Homo sapiens: one gene and its partners. The protein of the gene in region 2 purifies or fractionates together with the protein of the main gene of each other region. This does not show direct contact. Each region holds a gene or a part of one and is shown on either strand. Other genes may lie near its edges.

The links.
Region 1: the proteins of MSN (region 2) and LCP1 fractionate together in Homo sapiens (co-fractionation; one large-scale study listed by BioGRID). This does not show direct contact.
Region 3: the proteins of MSN (region 2) and S100A16 fractionate together in Homo sapiens (co-fractionation; one large-scale study listed by BioGRID). This does not show direct contact.
Region 4: the proteins of MSN (region 2) and CNTRL purify together in Homo sapiens (affinity purification with mass spectrometry; one large-scale study listed by BioGRID and IntAct). This does not show direct contact.
Region 5: the proteins of MSN (region 2) and RAPH1 fractionate together in Homo sapiens (co-fractionation; one large-scale study listed by BioGRID). This does not show direct contact.
Region 6: the proteins of MSN (region 2) and CALU fractionate together in Homo sapiens (co-fractionation; one large-scale study listed by BioGRID). This does not show direct contact.
Region 7: the proteins of MSN (region 2) and CAPN2 fractionate together in Homo sapiens (co-fractionation; one large-scale study listed by BioGRID). This does not show direct contact.

What each region holds. Positions count from the first base shown.
Region 1 is NC_000013.11:46,127,279-46,130,661, reverse strand, and holds part of LCP1 (plastin-2), read left to right. Parts: intron 1-2,938; coding exon 2,939-3,071; 3' UTR 3,072-3,383.
Region 2 is NC_000023.11:65,712,383-65,716,888, forward strand, and holds part of MSN (moesin), read left to right. Parts: intron 1-4,435; coding exon 4,436-4,506. UniProt on the Homo sapiens protein: Ezrin-radixin-moesin (ERM) family protein that connects the actin cytoskeleton to the plasma membrane and thereby regulates the structure and function of specific domains of the cell cortex.
Region 3 is NC_000001.11:153,610,035-153,615,050, reverse strand, and holds the start of S100A16 (protein S100-A16), read left to right. Parts: upstream 1-1,913; 5' UTR 1,914-2,099; intron 2,100-5,016. Other genes in the region: S100A14 (protein S100-A14), read left to right, coding at 29-166. UniProt on the Homo sapiens protein: Calcium-binding protein. Binds one calcium ion per monomer. Can promote differentiation of adipocytes (in vitro). Overexpression in preadipocytes increases their proliferation, enhances adipogenesis and reduces insulin-stimulated glucose uptake.
Region 4 is NC_000009.12:121,077,429-121,081,934, reverse strand, and holds part of CNTRL (centriolin), read right to left. Parts: intron 1,630-4,506; 5' UTR 1,457-1,629; intron 1-1,456. UniProt on the Homo sapiens protein: Involved in cell cycle progression and cytokinesis. During the late steps of cytokinesis, anchors exocyst and SNARE complexes at the midbody, thereby allowing secretory vesicle-mediated abscission.
Region 5 is NC_000002.12:203,454,828-203,459,333, forward strand, and holds part of RAPH1 (ras-associated and pleckstrin homology domains-containing protein 1), read right to left. Parts: intron 2,769-4,506; coding exon 2,703-2,768; intron 754-2,702; coding exon 610-753; intron 1-609. UniProt on the Homo sapiens protein: Mediator of localized membrane signals. Implicated in the regulation of lamellipodial dynamics. Negatively regulates cell adhesion.
Region 6 is NC_000007.14:128,745,565-128,750,070, forward strand, and holds part of CALU (calumenin isoform a precursor), read left to right. Parts: intron 1-1,988; exon of another isoform or gene 1,989-2,790; coding exon of another isoform or gene 2,791-2,803; intron 2,804-3,008; coding exon of another isoform or gene 3,009-3,019; coding exon 3,020-3,240; intron 3,241-4,506. UniProt on the Homo sapiens protein: Involved in regulation of vitamin K-dependent carboxylation of multiple N-terminal glutamate residues. Seems to inhibit gamma-carboxylase GGCX. Binds 7 calcium ions with a low affinity.
Region 7 is NC_000001.11:223,742,865-223,747,370, reverse strand, and holds part of CAPN2 (calpain-2 catalytic subunit), read right to left. Parts: intron 3,272-4,506; coding exon 3,153-3,271; intron 2,066-3,152; coding exon 1,932-2,065; intron 375-1,931; coding exon 206-374; intron 1-205. UniProt on the Homo sapiens protein: Calcium-regulated non-lysosomal thiol-protease which catalyzes limited proteolysis of substrates involved in cytoskeletal remodeling and signal transduction. Proteolytically cleaves MYOC at 'Arg-226'.

The DNA of each region.
Region 1 (3,383 bases), on a different chromosome or scaffold from region 2:
CTGTTTTGGATATGGGACAATAGTAGTTTAAAACTTCTAGTGCCAGAATGGGAGCAAGACAAAAAAAAAAAAACAACCCAATAATGAGAGTATTCTTGTAATTGATAAGCAAGCCTATAGTTTCATAAAACCAATTTCCTAACCAAATGCTCCATTCATGAATATTCATGGATAAGAATGCACAGGGGTAGGGTTCCACAGCAGAGCCTTTGCCAGTGTGAAAGCCACTGTCTTGTGTTTTACCATTCAGGTCACCTGCCAAATGATTCCTCTAGAGTGAGTATCAGCATATTACAGTTTCTGAGCCAGATCTGCCCTGTTGTCTGCTTTTCTAAACAAAGTTTTATTGAAACAGAGCCTATTCATTTGCATCTTGTCTATAGCTGCTTCCCTGCTATAACAGCAGAGTTGCATAGTTGCAACAAAGCCTAAGATGTTTACCATCCAGTCTTTTGCAAAAAAAGTTAATGAACATCTGCTCCAGACAGGTGCTTTTCTCAGATCAGATTCCGTTAGTTTCCTTGGGCTGCCACAACGAAGTACTGCACAAACTGGGCAGCAGAAGTTTCTTCTCTCACAGTTATAGGAGCTAGAGGTTTGCAATCAAGATGTTGGCAGGATTGGTTTCTTCTGAGGGAGAATCTGCCCCATGCCAATCTCTGCCTCCATCTTCACATGGCATTCTTCTTGCGTGTCTGTGACTTCACACGGCTGTCTTCCCGCTTTGTGTTTCTCTGCGACACTTCTTTTCTTAGAAAGACACCAGTCCTACTGGATTAAGGTCCCACCCAACTCCAGCATGACCTCGTCTTAACTACTTACATCTGCAGCAACCCTCTTTCCAACTAGGGTCATACTCTGAGGTGCTGGGGGTTAAGACTTCAGCATATGAATTTCGAAGAGACACAATTCAGCTCATACCACAGGTCTAGAAGATACAAGTATCTAGTGCCCGGCATCCCTGCTTTATAATCCCAACAGAGCCCTTCTCTCTGTTCCCAGTTTGGGAAAGTGGGAACCTGTGCTCTCGGGATGCCAAAGTTTAACACAATTTAATGGAGAGAAATAAATAATTAAACTAAAATTACAATAGATTGTGATGAGAGGTGTGGAAGGGACAGTATGAGGCATCCCTGAAGGGATAGGAAGGGGACTAGAGCTCTTTAGAGCAAATAGCAGCTCAGCTGAGCTCAACTGAAAAGACAAGTAAGAAGGAAGTAGACAGGTGAAGGAGAGAGGAAGAATGTTCCAGGCAGAAGGAAAAACACATATGAAGACCCAGAAATTGTAAAAAGCCTTCAGCCCAGATGTTCAAGGGGAGTGTGATTAGGTTTAAGAAACTTGCCAAGGCCATACAGTTTTTCAGTTGTGCAGCTGAGATTCAAAGTCCAACTTCAGAGCCCAGACCCCTAAGCACTCTCCTGTGAGGGCGAGATACAAAATTACTTAGAAAAAGGGGTGAAAGAAATTACACAAAATGCGAAGAATGGTTATGTCATGGTGGCAAGATTGTGTGTGATTTTGTTTGAAGCTCCCTTTTAATTTTCAGACCGTTTTCCCTCTGTGTTTTATAATGGGGAAAAATTAATTTTACTTTGTTAATAATTAATATGGAAGAAGTTATTGAGAGAGAGACAAGGAGAAAAAATGGGACCACTCATGCCTGATGCTCTTAATTTAATTTGATCAATAAAGTAAAAGTAAAGTAATTTTAGGAGAGCAGGAGGTAGTAAATGTGGGCTTGGGTAGAGTGAAGAGTGTCTGGTGTAACCATAGTAAGAGGTCACTAGATAATAAACGAGGTGAATAAAAGAACTGCCAGGTAGTAGTGTGGGCTCATTTGAAAATAAATTACAATTAATGAAATTTATCTTCATATATCTACAAATAGAGCAAAAATGTTCTGATGCAGCTATTATCATTCTATGTGAAAATATGGAATATAAATCTCTGGCTACTCTATATTATAGTACCATAAATAAGTACAAATATATGTGGGCAAGAATTGGAATGGAACAAAGAATAAAAAAATTGATGTGTAAGGCTAGGATTTTTTTTTTTTCTGAGACGGAGTCTCACTTTGTTGCCCAGGCTGGACTACAGTGGCACGATCTTGGCTCACTGCAGCCTCCGCCTCCCGGGTTCAAGCGATTCTCCTGCCTCAGCCTCCTGAGTAGCTGGGACTACAGGCGCACGCCACCACGCCTGGCTAATTTTTTGTATTTTTAGTAGAGATGGGGTTTCACCATGTTGGCCAGGATGGTCTCGATCTCCTGACCTTGTGATCCACCCGCCTCGGCCACCCGAAGTGTTGGGATTACAGGCGTGAGCCACCGCGCCTGGCCAAGGTCAGGATATTATACATTTTTCCTCTTTTGTTCCTTGTCAAAATGTTACTGTAGTTGAAATGTAGTCTGCAAACTTTTCCTAGCACACATGTTTATTCAGTTCTGTGACTCTTTCTGCTATGCTGCTATGTAGCCCAAGAGAATACTCCTGGTGTGAGTATCAAAAGTGGCAGCACGTGCTGTAGTGGCTCACACCTGTAATCCCAGTGCTTTGGGAGGCTGAGGCAAGAGCTTCTCTTGAGGCCAGGAGTTCAAGCCCAGCCTGGGCAACATAGTGAGACCCCTGTCTCTACAAAAAAAAAAAAAAAAACTTAACTTAAAAAAAAGGCAGGAGCTGAAGAGGTCTCCAAGGACAAATAATACACTTGATAATGATCACGAGACTAGCCAGCAAGTCTGATGCTTTGTCAGAATCTTTGGTTGAGCCAAAATTTGTCCACAAAAGTGTGAGGATGCTGGTGACTGACTCCAGCCACTGCAGGAGTGAGTTCTGTCCTGACTATGGAACGACTGTGACTGTGACCCTCCAGGGTCCCATTCGTGTTGTGTTTCTCAGGCTCTCCTTATTTTTCCTCTTTTCTCCCTTTTAGATATGCCATCTCTATGGCCCGAAAAATTGGAGCAAGAGTGTATGCCCTGCCAGAAGACCTGGTTGAAGTGAACCCCAAAATGGTCATGACCGTGTTTGCCTGCCTCATGGGGAAAGGAATGAAGAGGGTGTGAGGCCCAATGGGGCTGGGTGGGAGGCGGTGCACTCACTCCTGACTGCCCGGCACAGATGCTCCAGGGATGATTCAAGCCATTCCAAAGTTCAACTTGGTGACACTCTATAAGATTCCAAAAAGCACATATTAGTGCAGCCAAGTAGCCTCTCCTGTATTTAACAAAAAGTGCTTCATTCTTTGCAGGAGGCCCAACCTCCTATATATAGGTTTCTATTCTTGATTTATTTGCTTCTTCGAAAATCTAGAGGAAAAGAAAGAAGTTATTTTCCAGGTACCCTTCTCGCTTTTGCCATTAGCCAAGGATAGAAGC
Region 2 (4,506 bases):
TGCTCCTGACCCGTGTGTTCAGGAAAGTCCTAGAGGTTCAAAGACTGATAAGGTTTAATGTCTTACTCACTCCATGGAAATTTGCATCTTTGGCAATACTATATCTAGTGCTTTCCCTCAATACTATAAGCAGTATGTGACCAACTTAGAAAATGTAGATTAGATTTTTTTTTTTTTTTTTTAGTTTAAAGAAAGGAGAAAGCACCCATAAGATCACCACCCCAAAACCAAGCCTGACTAATACTTGGACAAGATTCCAATCATCCTTCTATGTATACATTTTACAAAGTTGAGCTCACGGACTCTATGAAATACTGTTTACATTTCCTCAATATTACTAAAGTGTCTTCCGTGAGCATGAAATAGTCTTCATAAAGATTTTGTATGACCATATAAGAAGCCATTTTGTGGCTGTACTATATACATTATTTAAGCAAAATATCTAACAACTAAAAATCAATCTTTTTTTTCTTTTAATGGGAGACTTTTGTACTCTGTAAGAGGAATTTAGCATATTGGTTTACATTGTGAGGTTTGGATTTAGACCTGGATTCAAACCCTGTCTCCCCTGCTTAATAGCAATGTGACTTTAGACAAATACCTATTTCTTTATCTCCAATGTGGAGATAATACTCTACTTCACAGGGTGATTATTGATATTAAATGAGGTAGTACATATGAAGTGCCTGGTGAGTAGCAAGTCTTGATACAGGAAAGCTGCTGCCTGTTACTATTACTACTGCTACCATTACTACTGAGTTTTCAGCCAAAGGACTAAATCTCTAATTATGAAATTTCAGCTATCATTGACCTAGCTTCGAGGATCTATTTGTAAAGGTGGTATTTTTTCTAGTGCCCGTGAAATCATGTGTGTGGCTGTCTCTTATTTTGGTCTGGGCCTGTTTCTGCACCTTTGTCCTCCCACTGAGTTGGCTTTGGTAGCCCCTCTATGCCACCCATACCCACCTCTACTGAGGCCCCCTTCCCCTCTTGAGCCTAAGGAAGCCAATGAGACATAAATATAGGAAGCATTAGCAATGCAAGGCAGTATATAGAACCACCGACATCAGCACTGAAATGGTCTTTGGACCATTTATCTAGTTTAATTGGCTGCCCTCCATCCCATTCCTGCCTTTGCACAGGTAAGGGAAACTAAGGCCCAGGAAAAGGACAGGAGTTATCCAAGGTTGTAGATTTGACCAGCTACATGCTAGGCTTGGAATCCAGTGTTCTTCTTTGTTTTTAATTTTTATTTTAAGTTCAGGGGTACATGTGCAGGTTTGTCATAAGGTAAACTCATGTCATGGGGGTTCATTGTACAGATCATTTTATCACCCAGGTATTAAGCCTAGTACCCATTAGTTATTAAAATATTTTTTCCTGATCATCTCCCTCCTCCCACCCTCCACCTTCTATGTGTCTGTGTGTTCTCATCATTTAATTCCCACTTATAAGTGAGAACATGTGGTATTCTACAACCTCTGCCTCCCGGGTTAAAGCGATTCTCGTGCCTCAGCCACCAAAGTAGCTGGGATTACAGGTGTGCACCACCTTGCCTGGCTAATTTTTGTGTTTTTAGTAGAGATGGGGTTTCGCTATATTGTCCAGGCTGGTCTTGAACTCCTGGCCTCAAGGGATGCGTCCATCTTGGCCTCCCAAAGTGCTGGGATTACAGGTGTGAGCTACCATGCCCAGTCTGGCATTTGATTTTCTGTTCCTGCATTAGTTTGCTAAGGATAATGACCTCCACTCCATTCATGTTCCTGCAAAGGACATGATCTTGTTGTTTTTTATGGCTGCATACTAACATACATTTTCTTTATCCAGTCTACCATTGACTGGCATTTAGGTTGATTCCATGTCATTGCTATTGTGAATAGTGCTTCAATGCACATGCGCGTTTATGTATTTTTATGATAGAATGATTTATATTCCTTTGGATATATACCCCATAATGATATTGCTGGGTTGAATGGTAGTTTTGTTTTCAGGTCTTTGAGAAATTGCCACACTGTTTTCTACCATGGTTGAACTAATTTACACTCCCACCAACAGTGTATAAAGGTTCCCTTTTCTTTGCAATCTCACTAGCATCTGTTATTATTTTTTTTTGATTTTTTAATAATAGCTATTCTGACTTGTGTGAGATGGTATCTCATTGTGGTTTTGATTTGCATTTCTCTAATGATGTAAATTTTTTATATATGCTTCTTGGCCACATGTATGTCTTCTTTTGAAAAGTGTCTCTTCATATCCTTTGCTCACATTTTAATGGGGTTGTTTTTTTTCTTGTAAATTTGTTAAAGTTCCTTATAGATGCTGGATATTAGACCTTTGTAAGTTGCATAGTTTGCAAATATTTTCTCTGGTTCCGTAGGTTGCCTGTTAACTCGATAGTTTCTTTTGCTGTGCAGAAGCTCTTTAGTTTAGTTAGATCTCATTTGTCAATTTTTGCTTTTGTTGCAATTGCTTTTGGCGTCTTTGTTATGAAATCTTTGTCCATTCCTATGTTCAGAATGGTATTACGTAGGTTTTCTTTGAGGGTTTTTATAATTTTGAGTTTTACATTACTTTTACATTTAAGTCTTTAATACATATAGAGTTGATTTTTATATGTGAGATAAGGATGGGGTCCAGTTTCAATCTTCTACATATGGCTAACCAGTTATCCCAGCACTGTTTATTGAATTGGGAGTCCTTTTTCCATTGCTTGTTTTTGTCGACTTTGTCAAAGATCAGATGGTTGTAGGTGTGTGGCCTTATTTCTGGGCTCTCTATTCTGCTCCATTGGTCTCTGTGTCTGTTTTTGTACCAGTACAATGCTGTTTTGGTTACTGGAGCCCTCTAGTATCATTTGAAGTTGGGTAGCATGATGCCTCCAGCTTTGTTCTTTTTGCTTAGGATTGCCATGGTTATTCAGGCTGTTTTTTTGTTTCCATATGAATTTTAAAATAGTTTTTCCTAGTTCTGTGAAGAATGTCATTGGTAGTTTGATAGGAATAGCATTGAGTCTATTCTATGAATTGCTTTGGGCAGTATCACCATTTTAACAATATTGATTCTTCCTATTCATGAGCATGGACTGTTTCTCCATTTGTTTGTGTCATATCTGATTTCTTTGAGCAGTGATTTGTAGTTCTTCTTGTAGAGATCTTTCGCTTCCCTAGTTAACAGTATTCCTAGATATTTATTCTTTTGTGGCAGTTCTGAATGGGATTGCCTTCCTGATTTGGCTCTTGGCTTGACTGTTGTTGGTGTATACGAATGCTAGTGACTTTTGTATGTTGATTTTTGTACACTGAGACTTTGCTGAAGTTATTTATCAGATTAAGGAGCTTTTGGGCCGAGACTATTGGATTTTCTAGATATAGGATCATGTCATCTGCAAACAAGGATAGTTTGACTTCCTCTCCTCTTGCTTGGTTGCCCTCTATTTCTTTCTCTGGTCTGATTGCTCTGGCCAGGACTTCTAATACTATGTTGAATATGAGTGGTGAGAGAGGGCATTCTTGTCTTGTGTCGGTTTTAAAAGGGAATGCTTCCAGCTTTGGCGCATTCAGTATGATGTTGGTTGTGGCTTTATCAGATGGCTCTTATTATTTTGAGGTATGCTCCTTCAATACCTAGTTTATTGAGAACTTTTAACATGAAGGGGTGTTAGATTTTATTGAAAGCTTTTTCTGCCCTTTAGATTATCATGTGGAACCCAGTGCTCTTTGTCCTGATATTAATTTGCCTCTGCAATTGTTTACCAGTGCTATAGATAATCCAGGTAGATCAGAGGTGAGAAGAGAACCCTGTGAGATGAAGCTGTCTAGTATAGATGGAAAGGCCTTCCTGGAAGAAGTACAGTTATCATTTGCCTGCTCTTAGTTGTAGGCTGATCTGCATTCTTTTTTAAAAATTTTTTTGAGACAAAGTCTCGCTCTGTTGCCCAGGTTGGAGTGCAGTGGTGTGATCTCGGCTCACTGCAACCTCTACCTTCTGGGTTCCAGTGATTCTCATACCCCAGCCTCCCAAGTAGCTTGAACTACAGGTGTGCACCACCATGCCCGGATAATTTTTGTATTTTTAGTAGAGATGGGGTTTTGCCATGTTACCCAGGCTGGTCTCGAACTCCTGGCCTCAAGCAATCCACCCACCTCGGCCTCCCAAAGTGCTGGGATTACAGGCATGAGGCATTGCACCCGGCCTTCATGCTTGTCTGTTCTTTGGTAAGTATTGCTCTGTGGCTGTGTTGTTTGTCTTCAATAAGCTGCTTGGGAGCAGGGGTTGTGTTTGGGTCAATATTCTCCCTTCATCCCCATCAGTATCTAAGTTGCCCAGGCTCTTAGCATCCTAACTCCTTCCTCTGTGGTTGAGCAGAGACACTTGTCTCAGGCTCTGTTGAACACAGAGCCAGATGACTAACCTGCTTCCTTTGATCTCATCCTAGATCAGTGTGCGTGTGACCACCATGGATGCAGAGCTGGAGTTTGCCATCCAGCCCAACACCACCGGGAAGCA
Region 3 (5,016 bases), on a different chromosome or scaffold from region 2:
TGAGCCATGGTTTCTTCACTCCCCTCAGAGCAACTGTGGCCTGGAAGAGAAAATTGCCAACCTGGGCAGCTGCAATGACTCTAAACTGGAGTTCAGGAGTTTCTGGGAGCTGATTGGAGAAGCGGCCAAGAGTGTGAAGCTGGAGAGGCCTGTCCGGGGGCACTGAGAACTCCCTCTGGAATTCTTGGGGGGTGTTGGGGAGAGACTGTGGGCCTGGAGATAAAACTTGTCTCCTCTACCACCACCCTGTACCCTAGCCTGCACCTGTCCTCATCTCTGCAAAGTTCAGCTTCCTTCCCCAGGTCTCTGTGCACTCTGTCTTGGATGCTCTGGGGAGCTCATGGGTGGAGGAGTCTCCACCAGAGGGAGGCTCAGGGGACTGGTTGGGCCAGGGATGAATATTTGAGGGATAAAAATTGTGTAAGAGCCAAAGAATTGGTAGTAGGGGGAGAACAGAGAGGAGCTGGGCTATGGGAAATGATTTGAATAATGGAGCTGGGAATATGGCTGGATATCTGGTACTAAAAAAGGGTCTTTAAGAACCTACTTCCTAATCTCTTCCCCAATCCAAACCATAGCTGTCTGTCCAGTGCTCTCTTCCTGCCTCCAGCTCTGCCCCAGGCTCCTCCTAGACTCTGTCCCTGGGCTAGGGCAGGGGAGGAGGGAGAGCAGGGTTGGGGGAGAGGCTGAGGAGAGTGTGACATGTGGGGAGAGGACCAGCTGGGTGCTTGGGCATTGACAGAATGATGGTTGTTTTGTATCATTTGATTAATAAAAAAAAATGAAAAAAGTGAAACATGTTGTCTTGACTGGACACCCCCTCCCTGAGGGTCCACGGGTGAGAGGAGCTTGGGGGTGAAAGGCAAAGTCATTGGTAGGGTGGGGCACGTGGGGCTGGAGTGGTTGGCTGTGGAAGTGAATGGGGACTCACTTTTCCCTATGGGTTTGGGTTGAGGGTGGTACCAGGTCCAAAAGGGCAACATGGTCCTCTCTGAGGGACAGGCTCCTCTTTGCCAATGGGCGGGCCCTCTTATAGGAGAGGAGGGTATGTGTGCACACTTGGGGAAAAGGATATTAGTCCAGGTGTTCTGAGCCCTGGCTGGCACAACCAGGGAAATGGGGTGGGTGGGGGTGGGGGGCGGTTAGAAACAGGCTGACTGGCCTGAGTTTGAATCTCAGATCTGCCACTTATCATTGGAATTTTGGGCATGCTCTTAGTATCAGTTTCCTCATCTGTAAAATGGGGGATATGAATATTACTTCCACAGGATTGCCAGGAGGACAATGCCACACATCATGTAAAGCACTTACAGAGAGCCTGACACATGGTGAGTGCCCAGTGACCCAATATCATTCCCGCTGGAGTGGGCAAGTGGGCCCCTCTTTGGTTTCAGCTGCTGCCCTAGTGTAGGGAGGTCGAGCTGGCCAGTTTCCTTGGGTATCTTAGGGAAACGGTGGGGTGTGGGGAGTTTCCAGAGGAGTCTTCTGGTGTACATGAGGGATCTTAGGGCTGGGTCTCAGTAGAGCTGATGGGTCAGACTAGAGACAGAAGACCAGGGAGCCAGACAGGTCCCTGGCATCTGCCTTCTGATTTGAGCACAGAAGTCGGGCGTTACTCCTGAAACCCCAGTGGCAAGGAGGTTTCTGTGGCCAGTTAGGCTGGCCTGGAATGTTAACTGAACTTGTCTGTTGGGAGCCCCTGAAACTGGGATCCCAGTGACCCAGGTGAGAAAGGCAGGTGATAGTCCTTCCCTTCCTTTCTCTACCCTGTCAGGTTCTGCTCAGCCCCTGCGGGGCTGGGAGGGTGGGGTTGGGGGAGTGCCAGTTTTCACCACTCCCTCTGGGATGGGGGTAGAGGGGTGTGAAAAAAGGTGTGTATCCCTTTAACAAGGGCCCAACCCCAGGGCCAAGTCAAGAAGGAGCTCAGCCACTATCTCCCCACCGAGCCAGCTCAGCGGGCAGGGCTGGGAGGGAGTGGGACAGATTCTGGGAGTGCAGCGGGGAGGAGTCCCGGCTGGGCTGAGCGCAGGGAGCTGCTTGGCAGTGCCAGAGCCCAGGCCCCAGAGCCCTGCTGGAGAGGAGGCAGACTGAGGCAGCAGGTGAGCACCCTGGGCCCGGCCTGGGAGGTCTTCGGCTGCCGGAGGGCCCCACAGTATTGGGAGGCCAGGAGAAGGGGCAGTGAAGGGGGCCTGGGGAGAGGGGCCTGCCAGAGAGCAGGCAGGAAGATTTTGGTAATTATTAACTTTCTCCCACAGGCCAGTTTAGGAATGGGGAGTCCTGGGGGGTTGGGGGCTGGGTGAGGCCTTTAGAGGGATGGATGGGATGGTGAGACCCCCTCCCTGCCGCAGCAGCTGACGGAGCTCCTCTCCAGGGGCAGAGTATTTGGAAGCTTTGACCACAGCTACTCGATCCTCCCCAAAAGGAGAGGACAAATGCGTGTTGGTCTGGGTTGGGGGTGGTCAGAGCTTGGACACAGGCCTTGCTGGGCTCTGGGAGCTGTGTCCTAGGGGAGGTGATGGGGTCCAGAAGGAACCAGGCAGTTTCCAGGGAGCCTGAGATTCCGAGAAGAGGAGGCGGGGGCTGAGGTGGCGTCCCCTCTACCTCACGACCCAAGCAGACCCCACTGTGTTCCAGGAGCTGTTCCTTGAGAGGGATGATGAGATCTGGGAGGAACCCGAGTGAGGCTGTGGGGAGCCTGCAAGCTCCCTGGGAGAGGGAAAGATAGAGAGAGGGGGGCTGAACCTCGGCAGCTCCTCCACCTCAGGACCCAGGCAGGCCCCGGCTTGAGCTGCTTTTCTTGGCAGAGCCACCTGCACTATGGGAGCCTTCCCCTGCCCAGCCCAGTGGGGATGGTGGTGAGGGCAGGGGTGCTGGGGAGCTGGCTCTGCCTTTCCCCACATTCTAGTAAGTGTTGTTGAGGCTGGGGTAGCTGTGTGTGTGTTGGGGGAGGCGGGGGCAAGATCCACACTGAACTCCTCCAACTTCACTTGCCTGGAAAAATTTCAGAGGCTGGCTTCTTGCTCCAAGAACTGAAGTGAGTGGAAGGGTGATGGGTCACCCAAGCAGAGGGGATCAGGAATGGCCGAGGTCCTTGCTCGGTGTGTGTGTGTGTGTGTGTGTGTGTGTGTGTGTGAGAGAGAGACAAAGAGAGTTAGACGCAGAATCCTGTGAGGATGGTAAGGGGTGAGGCAGGGCCAAGCAGGCCCCACTATGCTCCGGGAGCTGTTCCTGGAGAGGGCCTTGTGGAATTGGAGAAAGAACACAGGAAGGAGCAGAGAATGGAACAGCTGAGGCTGGAGAAATTTCATTTGAAACAGCCTTGCTGATAGAGGTGGCATTGTCAGCCCAGTTCGGATGGCACCTTCCCTATATATTGAAGTTAGAGAGGACAAATGAGTAAATGAAAAAGGGAATGAATGAATGAATGTGCAAGAGAGTGAATGCATTATTGAATGAGCAAGTGAATGAATGAGAGTGAATGAATGAGCCAATAAATGAATGAGTAAGCAAACTCATGGTGCCTAAGTGAGCAAATGAATTCCAGGTAGATGGAAGGGACACAGAGAATCCATACTTAGGCTTGACAGTGGGCTAGGCTCTGGAGAGAACAGTGACCAGGAGGGACAGGAGTCTAGGGACACATCCCAACACTTGGAAAAAACTTAAGACTCCAGAGGTGTCTGTGGGGTGAGAAGAGAAGGTGGACTTAGGACGGTGTGGTGGATGTTTGGAGCTCCAGACGGAAGGAGCCTGGGGATGCTAGGGGTGGTTAGGAGGCATTTGGAGGGCGTGGAGCCCAGAACCTGGGGGTGGGAGGGTGGGGCTGGAGTGGCTGGGATCCAGGGGCATGGAGTCAGGGCAATTTGGGCTTTTGGAGAAGTCAGCAAGCTGGGCTGAGGTGGGTGGGGTGGGGGTGGGAGACTGCTTGTTGCTCAATGATGAATCAGCCAAGGGGAAGACAATGAGAACATTGGGGTAGGGCTGGAGGCCTGAGGTGAGAGGGCCCATTGGAGGACACGTGGTCCTCCCATTCCCACATTTCTGGAAGGCTCCTGTGTACACTGTCCACTCAGGCCAGGATCTACCTGTGGCAGGGCCAATGCAGGAACGACCTCCTGCTTGACCTTTCTAGGAAGCGGCTGATGGGATAGAACATCTGCCCGACCCCTGAACCAGGAGACCCGGGGCCTGGCTGGTGGGGGAATGGGGCAGGCGGGAGGAGCAGGTGGCTTGTGGGGTGGGTGGGGTGGCAGATCCTGTCTCCTGGCCTCCAGGGGAGGGAGGCAGAGGAGGATAACGATCCCTGCCTGCCTGCTACCCTATCCTTCCTTCAGAAAAAGCTCCAGAAAAGCACTTGTCAGATGGTTATCTCCAGCACTGTCCATTTTACCGAAGGTGGGGAGCGGGTGGATTCCTGGGAGGAGGGGCTGGGAGCTGAAGCCCTGAGGCACTGGAGCTCCCGCTCTGGGTCTCCCAGTACTCCTGGGAGCAGGTGGCAGAGTCATCTCTGGGGCTCATCTGTGTCTTGGCCACTTGGCTGCTGCCAGAGGCCAAGCAGGGGTTGAGTCATGGTATTGAGGAAGGCCAGGAGGAGACAGCTCAGAGAAATGACTCCAAGGAGGCAGGTGGTGGGAGAGGTGGGCTAGCTTGTGGGGAGAGTGGCAGAGGGAGGTGCACCACCCATTTCCTTCCCTCTTCCTCTCCCTGACCGTTTCCCACAAGATCCCTCATTTAGGGAACAAGGATTGGGATGGTTAAGTGTGGGGAGTTTCTCTGAATTATCTTCCCACTTCCAAGTCTTGGTTGGGAGTGGACTTGGCACAGTCCTTCCAGAAATGGGCACGGTTTTCAGAATCACCTGGAACACTGGTCATGAACCTGAGCCACCTCCAACCCAAGGGCAGCACAGCAGACAGACCACAGGTTGAACAATGGTCTTCCTCTTCAACTGTAAATGTTAAAGTGTTTGTATGAAAGTCTTGCAGCGGTATAGACAGGGAACCACGCAGTTACACA
Region 4 (4,506 bases), on a different chromosome or scaffold from region 2:
GAAAGACTAAGGCATGTTTAGAGGGTTGGGACTTTAAGCCCAACCCCACAACCTTTAAGGAGGGGAGAGCAGCTAAAATTGATTTGATAACCAGTAGCCAATGATGTGAGCAATCACGCCTACATAAGTAAGCCTCCATAAAACCCCAAAAGGACAGGGTCCAGAGAACTTCCAATTAGCTGAACATGTGGAGGTGTCTGGAAGATGGCATGCTGGCGAGAGCATGAAAACTTCATACCCCTTTCCACGTACCTTGCCCTATGCAACTCTTCCTCTGGCTGTTTATTTTGTAATATCCTTTATAATAAATGGGAAAATGTAAGTAGTATTTCTCTGAGTTCTGTGACCCACTCAAGCAAATTAATTGAACCCAAGGAGGGGGCAGTGGGAGTCCCAATTTATAGCTTGGTGGTCAGAAGTATAGGTGGCAATCTACTACTTGTAATGGGCATCTGAAGTTGGTGGCACTCTTGTGGGACTGAGTCCTTAACCTGTGGGATCTGATGCTATCTTCAGGCAGACAGTGTCAGAATTGAACTGAATAAGAGGACATGCAGCTGGTGTCCACTGAAGAAGTATCTGGTGTATGGGGCAACAACCCTTACATGTCTGATGTCACAAGTATTGTACTGTGTGGTACGGCAGTAGGAAGAACATTTTGAGTTTTTCATATCTCTATTAAAAGATAATATAACTTCACAAGCATATGGGTACATATAAGCTGTGATTATACAGAAACTTCCTGCAAACTCCCAGCTTTCTAACAGCTGGCCATAAAGAAATTAAGACTCTCATTCCATAGGGGTCCTACCCAATACCCAGGAGGAAGGAATGCTGCACAGAGAGGCCAAGAGAAATCTGGAGAGGTAGGTGTTGCTGAGTTTCCTCACTCAGTCTATTAGCGTTAGATCATACCCATTTTGTCCAATCCTATTTCTATACAGCTGTCCACACTTCACTAATCCTAAGCATAAAAACGGATAATTTTTTCTGCATTTTTTGGGTCTTCATTCTGAAGGCTCCCATGACACATAAAGCTTTGATCGAATAAATTTGCTATGCTTTTCTCTAGTCAACCTGTCTTTGTTACAGGGGTGTTGGCCATGACCTTTATGATGGGCCAGAAAGGAATTACTCCCTTTCCTCCCCTACAGAACTTATACAGTATATAAAGGAGAGATTACACTAATATAATCTATTAATATATTCAATTTTTGGAATTCCTCTTTGGATTCTGCTTTCAAACTAATTCTTAAGTCTCACAAGAAAATCGGGTCCATCGCTTCAGGTACACTTTGTTTTTATTTTCCCAGTTTGATCACTAACCTTACTCAGTAAATTTGACTCCATATGAATTTTGTCTACTTCCAAAAATTTAATGAAAAGATGATGATTGAAGTTAATTCTAAAGAATATCATACTAGTGGCTAACATTTACTGAGGGCTTACCACGCACCAAATATTGTGATATTTCGTCAGGCACGGTATGTATACTTGCAGTCCCAGTTACTCCAGAGGATGAGGCAGGAGGATTGCTTGATCCCAGGAGCTCCAGGCTACAATGTGCTATGATCAACCTTGTGACTGGCCACTGCACTGCAGCCTGGGAAACACAGGGAGCCCCTGTCTCTAAAAAACAGACAGACAAATATATGTTGTGATAAGCTCTTTATGTGTATCATCATATTGAAAGAATTGAATACAACAACTCTATGAGATAAGTGTTATTTCCCATTTTACAGATGAAGATCTTAAATAATTTGTCCAAAATTCCTTAACTAATTGGTTTAGCCAAAACTTGAAATGTGATTTAATTCAAAACCCATGTTTTTAATGACCATGTCATATAGCTATCTGAGTTTCCTGGAGTCTAGATTATGTTTCCTTTGTTCTCTATGGCCTAGCATGATGCCATGGGCGGCAGGTGCCTGTAATCCCAGCTACTTGGGAGGTTGAGGAACAAAAATCACTTGAACTGGGGAGGTGGAGGTTGCGATGAGCCAAGATCGTGCCCCTGCGCTCCACCCTGGGCAACAGAGTGAGACTTCATCTCAAAAAAACAAAACAAAAAAAATCCTGAAGGAAACCCAGAAAATTTTATACAAAGAAAGGATCTCTGATATCATGATCCGGTCTCTCAAGGTGAGTAGTTTGAAAGGAATAAAAACCCCGTCTTTTTTTGTTTTTAAAAAGTTGATTATTATTTCACATACATTACAATATAGCCAAATGCCCCATTCCAATAGCCTCATTCACTACAGGTTAAGCACTCCAAATCTGAAAATCTGAAATATTTAAATATAAATGTAAAAAATATAAACAAGTATAAAGCAAATATTCCAAAATCCGAAAAAATCCAAAATCCAAGACACTTTTGATAGCAAGCATTTTGGACAAGAGATAATCAACCTGTACTTTATTTTTATTTTTTTGGAGGCAGCGTTTCACTATGTTGTCCAGGCTGATCTCGAACTCCTGAGCTCAAGCAATCCTCCCACCTCTACCTCCCAAAGTGTTAGGATTACAGGCATGAGCTACCACACCTGGCCTTCAACCTGTACTTCAAACTGTGAACTTAAATGTATCTGTACTTTTTCCTTCATTTTCTCATATTAAACTATACATATGGATCAGAAAAACTCCCCCAAGTTACATAACTGCTATTTATGCCATTTCCACAAGGCTTTTTGGTCTAAATTTCAAGCGTGGTAAACAATTTTTGTGCCTTATAACACAATTTTGCCATGGAAAAAAGTCTTTTAGTAATTTTAATATTATGAAATACATACTTAGTCTTAGTCCCTTTTGCTATCGTAAGTGTCTTTTTGTATACTAATGAGTTGACTGATGGCTAGCCACCTCTAGGCAGCTTCAGGATCGTGGCTGGTCACTAGAAAGAGGGAGGGGAGAGGGGCTAAAGGTTGAGTTGATCACCAATGGCCAATGATGTAATCAATCAGGCCTACATAATGAAGCCTCCATAAAAAGTTAAAAGACTGGGTTTGGGGAGCCTCCAGAAAGCTGGACACAGGGAGGGTCCTGGAGGGGAATCCACCCAGAGAGGGTGTGGAAGCTCTACGCCCCTTCCCACCTGCCTTACGCTATGCATCTTTTCACCTATATCCTTTGTAATATCTTTTATAATAAACCAGTAAATGTAAGTAAGTGCTCCCTGAATTCTGTGAGCTGCTCTAGCAAATTAATCAAACCCAAGGAGGGAGTTGTGGGAACTCTGATTTATAGCTGGTCAGTCAGAAGCACAGGTAAAACTGAGGCTTACAGTTGGCATCAGAACTTGGGGGCAGTCTTGTAAGCCAGCCTTCAACCTTAGGGATGTGACGCTGTCTCCAGGTAGACAGTGTCAGAATTGAACTGAACTAGAGGACAGTCCTGTGGTGCCCACCACTGCAGAACTAACTGCTTGCTTAATGTGTGGGGGAAAATCCTACGGAATCATGTTGTGAGCGTATAGTGGGAGAAATTGAGTTTAATCTGTAGTCTCAGTAATACTATTTTTTTCTTTTTTTGAGACAGAGTCCTGCTCTGTTGCCCAGGCTGGAGTGCGGTGGTGTGATCTCGGCTCACTATAACCTCCGCCTCCCAGGTTCAAGTGATTGTCCCGCCCCAACCTACTGAGTAACTGGGATTACAGGTGCACAGCACCACGCCCGGCTAATTTTTTTTATTTTTAGTAGAGATGAGGTTTTGCCATGCTGGCCAGGCTGGTCTCAAACTTCTGACCTCAGGTGATCCACCCACCTCGGCCTCCCAAAGTGCTGGGATTACAGCCACCATGCCCAGCCCTCAGTAATACTATTGATGCTGCTAAGCTGCACTGGCATTCTCCTTCTAAATAAGGATAATACTCTAAAATTTGAGAAAAGCTAAGAGGCATGTGCTTAGGTAAAATCTTATTCCTAATTAAATGGATTAAAAGATGACATTTATTATAGTATGTATAGTACGTAGTTGGCGTTTTTTTCCCCCCTGAGGCAAGGTCTTTCTCTGTCACCCAGGCTGGAGTGTAGTGGCATGCTCATGGCTCACAGCAACCTTGCCTTCCTGGGCTCAAGTGATCCTCCTACCTCAGCCTCCTGAGTAGCTGGGACTACAGGCGCATATAACCACGCTTGGCTAATTTTTTATTTTTTGTAGAGATGGGGGGTCTCACTATAGTTCCCAGGTTGGTCTTGAACTCCTGGGCTCAAGTGATCCTCCTGCCTCAGCCTCCCAAAGTGCTGGGATTACAGGTGTGAGCCACTGTGCCCAGCCTGTAGTTTTTACATCCTAATGATCAAGACCCTTTAGGTCTCACCAGACTATCATGAGGTCCTTTATTACCTCTCCTGATTAGTAAAAGTCAGGCTTACTCATTCATAGACTTAAACCCTTGGTTGCCACAGCTTCTGTAAAGCTTGGACACTGAAACAAGATAGACGTAATCAGTCTCAGAGAATAGCTAACTCAGTGAAGTGGGCTTAGGGGTTTACAGTGTTTGAGAATGGC
Region 5 (4,506 bases), on a different chromosome or scaffold from region 2:
AAAAACAATAATGTATAATAGAGCTCTCTGGAAAGAACAAGAAAATATCAAGTCGTTCAGTGCCTATAATGCATATGTAAAGTATAGTGATTCGCAACTGGTTGGGGGGAGGTTTTCACCAGTTAAATAGGGGCAACAATATATGCTCATAGGACTATTGTGAAGACTAGATGAGATAATACTGTAAAAAAGTTTAAAACAGTCCTGGTGCCAATAAGCACCGAAGTGATAGCTACACCAGGGTGGCCCTTAGCAGAAGAAGCATATTACCCAAACAAGATAAAAAAGCCTGTAATCCCAGAGAGCTGTGCTGTTCTTCCCAAACAAAAATAAACAAAACTACTCCAGAAAGAGTCCCCAAAAAACAACAAATAAAACTATGATTTCAAATTTGGTAAAGAGAACTGAGATAGGCTCAACTAGTGACCAGAGAAGTAAGAACTTTCAGGTTTCTTCTTCTTTATAATAGATTAATAAACAAAGCAATATTCTATGTCTTCCACGAACTGAAACAAATCATAGCCTGGGTTCACCTTGTCAGCATACTCAATACAAATTAAAAGCAATTAGCATAATGAGGAAGTTCAAATTCCAACAGAAGGGACACACCTTTGCTTTTCCTTTGGGAACATAGTAGATACCAGATGCTCGCAAGAGAAAATAACGCTTTTTCCAGGACTTCTTGCCATCATCCTTCAACCAAAGGACTCCTTCAATTTCTGGTACAGTTACAGAACTTCCACAAAAACATTCCTAAAATAACAAGATTATTTGCAAAGACTTATGATCGTTGGATTCTCAGAACAAAGTTGTGTTTACTCCTGTGAAATGCATGACAGTTATTAAACCAAAATGGTTTTATATTAAAACCAAGCTGCTAATTTAACCTCAATTAGAACTTTCCAGCCAGGTGTAGTGGCTCATGCCTGTAATCCCAGCACTTTGGGAAGCGGGTGGATCACTTGAGGTCAGGAGTTCAAGACCAGCCTGGCCAACATAGTGAAACCACGTCTCTACTTAAAAAAAAAAAAAAAAGCCAGGCATGGTGGCGCGAGCCTGTAGTCCCAGTTATGTGGGCAGCTGAGGCACAAAAATTGCTTGAACCTGGGAGGCGGAGATTGCAGTGAGCTGAGATCACACCACTGCACTCCAGCCTGGGCAACAGAGCGAGACTCTGTCTCAAAACAAAAACAAAAACAAAAACAAAAACAAAAACAAGACAAAACACTTTCTATTCTAAACACAATATGAATTTGGAACTACTATGGCAATCCTAAAATGTTTATTAAATAAAAATGCCAGTCATACATGTAATACTGAATTTTTACCTACAAACTTTTAACTAAAACACTGTTTCGGAGAAAAACTAAGTTGACACATGAACTGAGTTGCATGTAACAGTAGTTAAATACCTTTGCAAACAGCACAGTTACACTAAATTTAATAAAACTGTCAGGGCAAACCAAGCGTTAGACTTTATTTTTTCTCTACATTTAGATTAGCTGTCAAACTAAACAGGAATATATTTTAAAAGAATGCAACGTGCTAAGTGTATGATTAAACTTTAAGAATTTAAAAACTATCCATTTATGTGACTCTAAGACAAAGAGGGCATTTATTTAAAAAATAATACTAGGTTGAAAGGACTATAAACACTCAAAATTCTAAGTTCTAAACACTATGCTTTGATAAAAATCTAATATTAAAGAAATCAATCATGTATTTGTGAAAGAAAAGAGAAATCCTCAGAAAACACTAATATAGGACATTTGGGCCTAAATTAATTTTTCTCCTCAAAGTACAGAAAAATTAGGAATTACAAGGCAGATTTTTACTTAACCGTAGTTAGTATCACTATGAAAACTGAATGTTGATCTTCGCTTCCTAATTGCCTTGCTGGTAAGTAAGGGTTTATTCAGGTTTTCAAGTATACTAAGTTATTTGATTTTAGTTCTATAAAATCAGCCAAAAATTCAATTATATTTTTCCAAAAAATGATCATGATTTTAAAAATTATTTAATTATTTAAGGATAAGGCTGGAAATAATTTGTGAACAGCTAATTATATTCAAATTTCTCTCTGAGTAAGCAGATAAAAACAGCAAAACCACATCCTTCATTGACCAGCCACCTCTCCCACTTGGCAGCCCCTAAAAGCTCATTATTCTTAGATCACTAGAATATGGCTTGGCAAAATAATAAAGGGTCTTCAGTGGCCTAACACGTTCACACAGTTGAACTCTCTCCCTCATACTATCAAAGAATACACAGGCTTCTTTAATTAAAATTGTAACTACAAATATAGAACACTGACATACTTGACTTCAAAAAGGTATTTAATATTTTATTTTATTTATTTATTTATTTATTTATTTTATTGAGACAGAGTCTCACCCTGTTGCTAGGCTGGAATGCAGTGGTGCAATCTCGGCTCGCTGCAACCTCCGCATCCCGGGTTCAAGCAATTCCCTGCCTCAGCCTCCCGAGTAGCTGGGATTACAGGCGCCCACCACCACGCCTGGCTAATTTTTTTATTTTTTAACAGACAGGGTTTCACCATCTTGGGCAGGCTGGTCTTGAACTCCTGATCTTGTGATTCACTCACCTCAGCCTCCCGAAGTGTTGGGATTGCAGGCGTGAGCCACCATGCCTGGCCTAATATTTTAATTTTTAAATGTGCAGGAAAATGGGGGTTGTCATACCTCCAAGAGGACTTCTTTGTTTCTATCTGCCATCTCAGCTGTTTCTTTTTTCCCCAAAAGATAATTCTGGAAAAACAAACATATGGAAGGGATGGGTGGGAGAGAAAAAAAGAAGGTTAAAGCATAAATCCATTCTGTTATTCCCTTGGCACAGGTGTGTGTATGTTTTCTTCTAGAGAAATAGCAACTCTGATTTCTGTTGGTATAGAGTAGAATAAACTTTGAAAAGTTACCTGTGTATGGGCATCATCACTAAAATGCTTAACACCAGTCTCCTCCTTGCCTGTCCACTTGTCATAAACTGTCCTTACCCAGACTGTGAGGTGGTATTACATTCAACAGCTGGCAAATATGTTTTGGGATATCTAATGAAAGCTACGTTAGAGGATCTGAAAGGTTTAGAAATTCATAAGTACAACAAGTAAGGCAAATTTCCTTAAAATATACTGATCTAGGTGCAGAAAATTTATGTTCTGGCTTTTTAAGAAGAAATCCCATATTCTCTGGGACTCATTTATTAATAATCTCATTTACTTGACTCAACTAAAAATCTGAATTCTGGCTGGGTGCAGTGGCTCACACCTGTAATCCCAGCACTCTGGGAGGCCAAGGCGGGTGGATCACGAGGTCAGAAGTTCAAGACCAGCCTGACCAACACGGTGAAACCCCGTCTCTACTAAAAATACAAAATTAGCCAGGTGTGGCAGCACGCACCTGTAGTCCCAGCTATGCAGGAGGCTGAGGTAGGAGAATCGCTTGGAGGCGGAGGTTGCAGTGAGCCAAGATCACGCCACTGACTCCAGCCTGGGCAACAGAGCGAGACTCCATCTCAAAAAAAAACAAAAAACAAACAAACAAAAAAATCAAACTGAAGTCTACTCATTAGTACACAGTCATCCCTTGTTGTCCATAGGAGATTGATTCTAGGATCTCCCCTGTATACCAAAATCTGCTGATGCTTAAAGTCACTTATAAAAATGGGGTCACATTTGCATATAACCTATGCACATTCTCCCTTGTACTTTAAATAATCTCTAGATTACTTACAATACCTAATACAATGCCTACCTATCATTTAATTTGCATGAATTCAATGCAGTACTCAAGCGTGGCATATTCAAGTTTTGTTTTTTAGAACCTGGAATTATTTTTCTGAATATTTTAGATCTGCAGTTGTGCAAATCCACAGATGCAGAACCCATGGATATAGAGGGCTGACTGTACTTCTTTTTCTTTTTCTCTTTTTTTTTTTGGAGACGGAGTCTCACTGTCACCCAGGCTGGAGTGCAGTGGCACAATCTCGGCTCAGTGCAAGCTCCGACTCCCGGATTCACACCATTCTCCTGCCTCAGCCTCCCAAGTAGCTGGGACTACAGGCGCCCGACACCACGCCCGGCTAATTTTTTGTATTTTTAGTAGAGACAGGGTTTCACCGTGTTAGCCAGGATGGTCTCGATCTCCTGACCCTGTGATCCATCCACCTCAGACTCCCAAAGTGCTGGGCTAATTTTTTGTATTTTTAGTAGAGACGGGGTTTCACCGTGTTAGCCAGGATGGTCTCGATCTCCTGACCTTGTGATCAGTCCACCTCAGCCTCCCAAAGTGCTGGGATTACAGGAGTGAGCCATTGCGCCTGGCCTGTAATTATTTTTCATAACTGCCTACAAAAAGATCTGTTGATACCCCCAAATATGTATTCTTCACTAAAACATCCAGAAAAGATGTGTCATGGTTATGCCATTTGAAGCATAACTATGCAATATCTTTAACACTGCTGCTATTTTTCTTCATTACTACTTTTTAT
Region 6 (4,506 bases), on a different chromosome or scaffold from region 2:
ACTATATCTAGCCTGGGTGACAGAGTAAGACCCTGTCTCAAAAAAAGAATTGTTTATAGTTTGAGATAGAAGTTTCATTTTGCCCTGAAGTAAAGGCATACTCACTTTAATGTTGTATTTATAGAGCCGCTAAATCTCGGATTTTCTGTTTACTCTTTAACTGATTTGATTGATCAGTTGAATTATTGGAGGGTCAGCCAGAGTGTTGTTCACCCAGAGCAATATTTTACAAGTGGTGCACACAGAAAGCTAATAAACATGAGAGTGTGCTGTTCATACAAATTAGACAGTACAGCAGGATACAGTATTAAAGTTCACTTTCACACCAATCTTACCAGCCCACCCCATTCCTGTCTCTTCTCCCATGAACCTTGAGGTTACCACTGTTTACACATGGGTATTTGTCTTTGCACACCATTTATGTGCATGTTATATTTTATACAAATAAAAACAAGCTGGGGAGATTGTTTAATTTTGTTTTGCTTTTTATGTAAATGAGATCTTGACGTTGTTTTGAACCTTGCTTTTTTTGTTCACTTGACATATCTTGGTGAATTTTCCATTTCACTGCAGATAGATGCATCTCGTTCTTTTTTTTTTTTTACATTCTTTTTTTTGAGGAAGGGTCTCGCTCTGTCACTGAAGTGCAGTGGTGAGATCTCAGCTCACTGCAGCCTCTGCCTCCCGGGTTCCAGTACTTCTCGTGCCTCAGCCTCCTGAGTAGCTGGGACTACAGGCGTGTGCCACCACACCCAGCTAAGTTTTGTATTTTTAGTAGAGACAGGGTTTCACCGTATTTCCCAGGGTGGTCTCGAACTCCTGACCTCAAGTGATCCTCCCGCCTCGGCCTCCCAAAGTGCTGGGATTACAGGCATGAGCCACCATGCCTGGCTGCTTTTTTTATTTTTTTTGAGATAGGATCTCTGTCACCCACGCTGGAGTGCAGTGGTACAATCTCAGCTAACTGCAACCTCCACCTGGTGGGTTCAAGCTATCCTCCCACCTCAGCCTCCTGAGTAGCTGAGACTACAGGTGTATGCCACCATGCCCAGCTAATTTTTGTATTTTTAGTAGAGACAGTGTTTCGCTATCACCCAGGCTTGTCTTAAACTCCCGGATGCAAGTGATCCGCCTGCATTAGCCTCCCAAAGTCTTGGGATTACAGGCGTGAACCACCACCCCCGGCCTCATGTCATTCTTTTTTTTTTTTTTTTTTTTTTTTGAGACGGAGTCTCACTCTGTAGCCCAGGCTGGAGTGTAGAGGTGCTATCTCGGCTCACTGCAAGCTCTGCCTCCTGGGTTCACGCCATTCTCCTGCCACAGCCTCCCAAGTAGCTGGGACTACAGGCACCCACCACCACGCCCGGCTAATTTTTTGTATTTGTAGTAGAGACGGGGTTTTACCGTGTTAGCCAGGATGATCTCGATCTCCTGACCTTGTGATCCACCCGCCTCGGCCTCCCAGTGTGCTGGGATTACAAGCATGAGCCACTGCGCCCGGCCCATTCTTTTTAACCTTTGTGTATTTTTCCATAATCGAGATTTAATATATTTTACCAATTCTCTGTTTTTATTTGTTTTCCGATTTTTTAATCATTGTGAACTGTCATCATTGAACATCTTAATACAAGTATCTTTGTCTGTAAATGTGGGTATTTTGATGGGATTGAATGAAACAATGTTGAGAAACATAGCCAAGTTCTAACATTGATAGGAATAGAGTAATAAGTACCATCTTCTACCCATTTCTCTATGGGTTTCATGGTCTTGCTTTCACATTGCTTCTTCTGATGGATTTTCCTAAGTCTTAACCTTCACGTCATCAGTAACAGTACCTTATTTGAGACTGGGGCACTTGGGAATGACTGCCCCCCAACCCCCGCCCCCATTATCTCCTTAGGTACTTTTCTGTTTGTCTTACTGTGTTGTCGTATTTACTCTAGAACACTTTCCACTCTCTACTGATATGTCCTCCTCTGCCATTTCAGGACCTCCCACCCTCCCCCACTGAGCTGCCTTCCCAGTGATGAAAGAAAAAATGTAAAAGCCTGAAAACCCTTCTTCTTGATTTTTAATTTTTTTTTTTCCCTCTAAGACCTTAACCACTCTGGATAGTATCACGGGGTATCAGTAGAGTGTGCTAAACAGATGTGTACTCTGCAGCTTCTTTGCAGGTTTTTTGTCACATTTTTCAGTCAAGTGTTCCAGCTTTGTGCTTGTTCATTAGAGTCACCTGTGACTACAGAGATTCTGAAAGTTTGAATCAGGGCCTGGGAATCTGTACTTTGAACAGTACTACAGGTGGTATTTATGCCTAGGCAAGTATGGGAAACAACTGTGCAGAAGGATAAAGACGTTCTTATCTATGACTAGACCATCTGAATGATTTGGCCTTTGAAGGTGACTCAAGGTTGAGCCTGGATGTTGGAGACTTGGTGCTATAGACCAAGGAAGCTGCCAAGTATTTCGCTGGTTCCTAATCTCATGAACATCAGAATCACCTGAAAAACATTTAAAGCTACGAATGTCTGAATTCAGCTTCAGAGACTCTAAATCAATAGGAGAAACTTAAAGCTTCCTAGATGATTCTAATAACCAGCCATGTTTGAAGACCAGACCACCAATGCGTACAAGAAGTAAAGGATTTGGAGTCAACATTTAAACCTTGGTTCTTTCACTTTTAATTCTTATGAACTTGGGCAAAAGGATTAAAATTCTACTTTGGTATCTTTTGAAAGAAAACAGAAAGTGGACATTTTAACTATAAGTTTCTTATCAGCCTACAATCAGATGAAGGAAACTGGTAAAAATTTCTCACTGTAATAATTGAAGAGTCTGATATTCCACCATACTTATTTTATGGATGAAGTAATATTTGGGATAATATAAAAGACTTGCATAGATATGTATATCAAATTAATAGTTTAACTCGGATGTGAGCTTTTAATTTCTTATTTAGTTATTAAGCATACTGCCTCCTGAATTAACTGCTTTTCATTTTCTTCAAGATCTAATTATCATGGACCTGCGACAGTTTCTTATGTGCCTGTCCCTGTGCACAGCCTTTGCCTTGAGCAAACCCACAGAAAAGAAGGACCGTGTACATCATGAGCCTCAGCTCAGTGACAAGGTTCACAATGATGCTCAGAGTTTTGATTATGACCATGATGCCTTCTTGGGTGCTGAAGAAGCAAAGACCTTTGATCAGCTGACACCAGAAGAGAGCAAGGAAAGGCTTGGGTAAGGTACCACCTCTCAGGGGTCTAGTGTGGGTAATGACATTCTTTATAAAGGCTAATTCTTTTCTTTTCTGGCTCAGTTATGAGTAAAGTTATATTGAACTATTAATACATCTTCTGAAAGCTAACCATGGAATTACTACCTCTAAAATTTCATTAAATGCCTGATTTCATACATTTTTAATTGAATAACAGTTGGTGCCTCATTCTACAAAGCATCATTTTTGCATAAAAGTACCAAGTACTGCAAGACCCAACTTGAACTGCATTATCTTGCTACCAGAAGAACATAGCATGGGGGGATTTCTCATCTCTTCTCATCTCTACTGCTTTTAATTTTTAAAAACTATCTGTGCCCTACTGACCTGGCACAAGCCAAGTCTTTGATGGGCTAATAAACGGCACATTGGATCCCTATAAAGTTTATGATTTCCCGAGGTGTCCTTCACCCTCTTTATTTTCATTCTCAGATATTTGTTTAATTAAAAAACAAAAATCAAACCAACTTTGTCTTTTAGAAAATTGTAACTTAATGTCTGAGTATGAGTTACTGTTTCAGTAACAGCAGGGCCATAGTCAGGTTCTTTGGCTCTCTCGGTAGACATCTTTTGTCCTGAAAAATGGATTTGGTAGAATCCCAGTTGATTATTTCTAATTGGGGATCTGAGAATGTCTTTTTTGGTCCTTCCAAAGCCTTCCTTTTGAAGAAAATGCAGGTCAATTTTGTAAAAATATTCTTCTCAGTGAGCACTGTTGGTGCAACTTCCTGATTGTATTCAAGAGATTTGTGTGGAAAGTTGTGCCACACATAGCAATTTCTAAAAATATTTTGCCTTGATGGGTAGCATTTTGATCATAAGACGTTGTAGGATTTGCTTTGGAAGATGCTGCAGAATAGATGTATTTTTTCATTGGGTTATCTACTGACTGAAGGGTACAATGTTTTATTTTTCAACATTGACAGAAATAATAAAGATATTTTGCTATGTAGAATGAGCACTGTCACATAGCATTTGAAAGTAGATAGATATGCATCACAGAGTTAGTTTTCTATTAGGTTGCTTTCCTTTGGGAGACCATCCTCACTTTCAGTTTTAATCTAATAACTGTACTAACATTCCAGGCTGAAAATAGAAATGCAGATCAGGTACGGTGGCTCACGCCTGTAATCCCAGCACCTTGGGAGGCTGAGGCGGTTGGATCACGAGGTCAGGAGATCGAGACCATCCTGGCTAACACTGTGAAACCCCATCTCTACTAAAAATAC
Region 7 (4,506 bases), on a different chromosome or scaffold from region 2:
ATGCCATTTCTTGTATTAGTCTTCCTTTTGCCAGTTGATTTTCAGCGGACCTTCAGAGGGTGGAGGGAGGTTTTCCTTTGGCCCCTACGTGGACGAGGGCTGCATTACGTTGTACACAGGAGCAGTGGGTTCCCTTGGGCACTGTGGGAGCCTCCCTTCAGCAAGAGCAGATGGGGTGAGGCTAGGGAAGGCAGCCTGGACTTACGTCGATGGAGCAGCCAAGGAGAGAGCCTTTTTGCAGAGCTTTCTGGATGATCTTGAACAGGTTGGGAGGGGGCTTCTTCAACTCATACCACTCAGCAATGCCTCCGGTGAAGTCTTCGAAGCCCTCAGTGGTGGCACCCCCTGATAGCGCTTCATAGCATCCGTTGATCCTACAAGAGGGGATTAGACGCTGCCGCTACCCTTGACACTACTGATGCTATAATCTCTCAAACAGCCACCCCCTAGTACCGTCTAGATTTGATGCTCCAGGGACCCCCTGCTCACATTCTCCTTGGCCTTGTTCCCAGCTCGGGGTGCTCAGGAAGGCAAGGTATAATGTCCACAGTTACCATTTCCCTGGTATTTTGTGTTTTAAAGAAAATCTCAGGCCGGGCGCGGTAGCTCATGCCTGTAATCCCAGCACTCTGGGAGGCCGAGGTGGGCGGATCACTTGAGGTCAGGAGTTCAAGACCAGCCTGGCCAACATGGCAAAACACCATCTCTACTAAAAATACAAAAAAATTAGCTGGGCATGGTGGTGCATGCCTGTAGTCCCAGCTACTTGGGAGGCTGAGGCAAAAGAATTGCTGAAACTCAGAACGTGGAAATTGCAGTGAGCTGAGATCATGCCGCTCACTCCAGCCTGGGTGACAGAATGAGGCTCCGTATTAAAAAAAAAAAAAAAAAAAAAGATTCTCGTAGAACCTTAGAGTCGGAAGGACCTTAGTGATTTTCTGGATGAACCTCCTGTATTGATTCCTTCTACATCCTGACAAGAAAGGGGAGGTCTACTAATGGGTCGTTTGGCATTGATAGCTTAAAAAAGGACAACCATTCAATAATGGAAGCAGTTTCTCTGAGAAACAGGCACGGTGTTGGCAAGGGCTTAGTGCTCCTGACTGCTGATGCTGGAGTCCGGTGGCTTCCCTGACCCCAGTATTGAGCAGTGGGACTTAGAAGCATCCGTCAGGCTCCAGGTTCTCACAGCTGACTCCTCCTTCCTGGATTGGGACTGTAAGAAACAGAAATCCACTTGCTGCTCTAAAGTGGGGTCACTTTAATGGAAGGAGCCGGGCGGCACAGCCAACATGGGGCCATTGTGGAGAGGGGCTGGTGTGGGGCTTCTTACTGAGAGTGGGCAGCCCTGAGCACTGGACAAACTCAACTGTGGGCAACCTGGGTGGGAAGCAGCTGTGCGGAGATGGGGAAGCCATTGCTAATCAGTGACATCATCTATTCTGGGCAAGTTTCCTACCTCTGCAATGAATAGTTCTGCCCATTGGCAAAAATTCTGCTTTTTTAAGTTGATACAAATGTGTCCTGTCAAGGAAGTAGAGCTCCTTCTCAAGTCCAGCACAATCAGTACCATAACTTGTTCCTGTGCATTTGGTTAAAGATGGTGATAGACATCATTTATCAGCGTACAGTGCAGCCAGGCACCCTGCATGCACTATCTCCTTGCATTTAGAGCCTAATTTTGGCCAAAGAAGTCCTTCTATAGAAAAGGACTTCCCACTCAAAGTAGTCCTGGAGTAGTTCTACTGATTTTTATATTTTTAGTAGAGACGGGGTTTCATCATGTTGGCCAGGCTGGTCTCGAACTCCTGACCTCAAATGATCCACCCACCTCGGCCTCCCAAAGTGCTGAGATTACAGGCATGAGTGAATTTTTTGGAATCCAGGGCATTGGGGGAAGGCCATGGGGCCAGGGGAGGATGGCAACTTACTTGGCGTATGCCTTCTCCAGCAGGGCGCTCCAGAACTCGCTCCCTTCGGCTGAATGCACAAAGAGCAGCTCCCCGTCCTTGGTGGGCAGCCTGTCATCCACCACCACCTCCACCCACTCGCCGTATTGCCAGAACTGCAGAACAAGAGAGGTGGGCTGCAGGAGGAGCTGGTGGCAGCACTGGGACTCTGAGCCTCAGCTGCCTCTGGCTCCCCTTGCCCTGATCCCCTGGGATAGGTTCCATGAGCGCATCCTGGGAGGAGGTGCTCCCTTAACTCTCCTATGCAGGCCAAGTCCTCACTAAAAAAGCGAAGACAGAGGCGCATGTCCATCCTTTCAAATCCACACCCGCCTCTTTAGCATTCTGCCCTGTACCTTAGGCTGTTTTTTTTTTTTTTTGAGACCAAGTCTTGCTCTGCCCAGGCTGGAGTGCAGTGGCACGATCTCGGCTCACTGCAACCTCTGCCTCCTGGATGCAAGTGATTCTCTTGCCTCAGCCTCCCGAGTAGCTGGGATTAAGGGCACGTGCCACCACACCCGGCTAATTTTTTTTGTGTTTTTAGTAGAGACGGAGTTTCAGCATGTTGCCCCAGCTGGTCTCGAACTCCTGGGCTCAAGTGATCCACCCACCTTGGCCTCCCAACCTCTGCCTCCCAGGTTAAAGTGATTCTCCTGCCTCAGCCTCCCAAGTAGCTGGGATTACAGGCCTGCACTACTACGCCCAACTGATTTTTGTACTTTTAGTAGAGATGGGGTTTCATCATGTTGGCCAGGCTGGTCTCGAACTCCTGACCTCAAATGATCTGCCCACCTCGGCCTCCCAAAGTGCTGAGATTACGGGCATGAGCTACCGTGCCCAGCCAGCTTTTTCAAGTATTATTTCTCATTTACCGGCATAAAAGGAGGAGAACTTCAACGTTTTTGTCTCAAACATCAAATAATACAGTTTTTTTTTTTAAACTTGGGAATTAGTTCCTGAACACCTTGCTCTACCTCCCTTTTACATGTCCCAAGAAACCACCCAGGGCCATCCCAGCCGGGTCTCACATCCTGGCCACGGGTAAGCCAGGAAGCTTCCTGCTCTCGCCCAATGTCCTTTGTAGAACAGTATTGGTCTTGGGAGTCTGCAAACACCAGGGACTGATGAACCCAGCCAAGCCAGAAGACTGTTCCTAGCCCCCTGGACCTGTTGAGGAACCACCTGAGCCAACCATTAAGTTACCTGGAAGTGAAAGATCCCTGCATAGTTTTCCTGGAAGCTCTGGTTTAGGGGGACGACTCGAGCCAGGATTTCTTCATTCAAGGTGAGGGAGGCAATGGCTGCCAGCAGCCAGCAGTCACCTGTGAACACAGCACAAGGAGCTCTTATCAGAGGGTCTTAGAACCAGGAGGATGTTAAAAATCTTGTCTCCACCTCCAGGGGCTTAAAGCCTAAGACAACCTGTGAATAGACAGAGTGAAGTTTCAGGCAGTCCCCCATATGAGGGTTGGGTCAGAGGGTTTGGGGGCTATTAGGTTGGTGTAAAAGTAATTGTGATTTTTGCACCAACCTAGTATTTTGAGGGAAATGCAAAGGGAGAAATGTTTTTGCTGTGTTGTGGTTGGGCAGAGATGGGAAATTTCATTCCCTGAAAGACCCAGAACTCTGGTGGCTGAACTGTGCCCTCAGAGCCCAGCCTTGCACCTGATTCGCAGCAGATGCTCCACAGTGAGAGAATGAAACCAGCGCAGCTGCAGAGGCTTCTGAGCACACAGGCTTTGAATGGGAGTTTGGGCTGGGTGTGGTGGCGTACACCTGGAGTCCCAGCTATAATACGAATACTTGGGAGGCTGCGGCAGGAGGATCCCTTGAGCCCAGGATTTCAAGGCTGCAGTGAGCCATGATTGCACCACTGCACTCCAGCCTGGGCAACAGAGGGAGACCCTCATCTCTAAATAAATAAACAAACAAATATATAAAGGGGAGTTTGAGTGAGAGAAAGAAAACGTAGTGCTAGATGGGAAGGGGACAAACGTTGCACGCCTCCTAGGAGGAAGGTCAGAGCCAGGAAAAGAGGCTCTGGCAGGGAGTACAGTCGCAGGAAGTAAGTACGGAGCAGTGCAGATGGAAAAGCCCTGAGTCAGAGGCAGAAGGCTGGACTGTCCCGAAGGGTTTCTGTGCGGAGGGGCAGAGGTCACTTCAAGGGGTAGACAAGGATGGGCACAACGAGGTGGGCAGCTGGCCAGGCAGCCTGGTCCCTCTCTGAGCCTCAGAACCCTCCCCCATGACATGGATAAGTGTGAGGCATAATGAGAGCAGGTGTGTAAGCACTCGGCACCCATTTGGTGCCAGTGCTAGGTTCTCAGCACAGCAGGCACCACAATCATTTCATGCAGTTAGAAGCAAGCTGATGCCAGCAACAGCACCCAGATGGTTTGCAGGGAGGGGTCATCTTCACCACAAAACACAAACAAAGGGGAGGGGGCCTGGGAAGAGGATGAGGAAGTTTACTCCATTCTTAAGGAATGTGCACTTTCCTACAATTTCCCATGACAATAATGGGAAGTAGCCTCAAAGGAGTTTAATTCACTGTTGG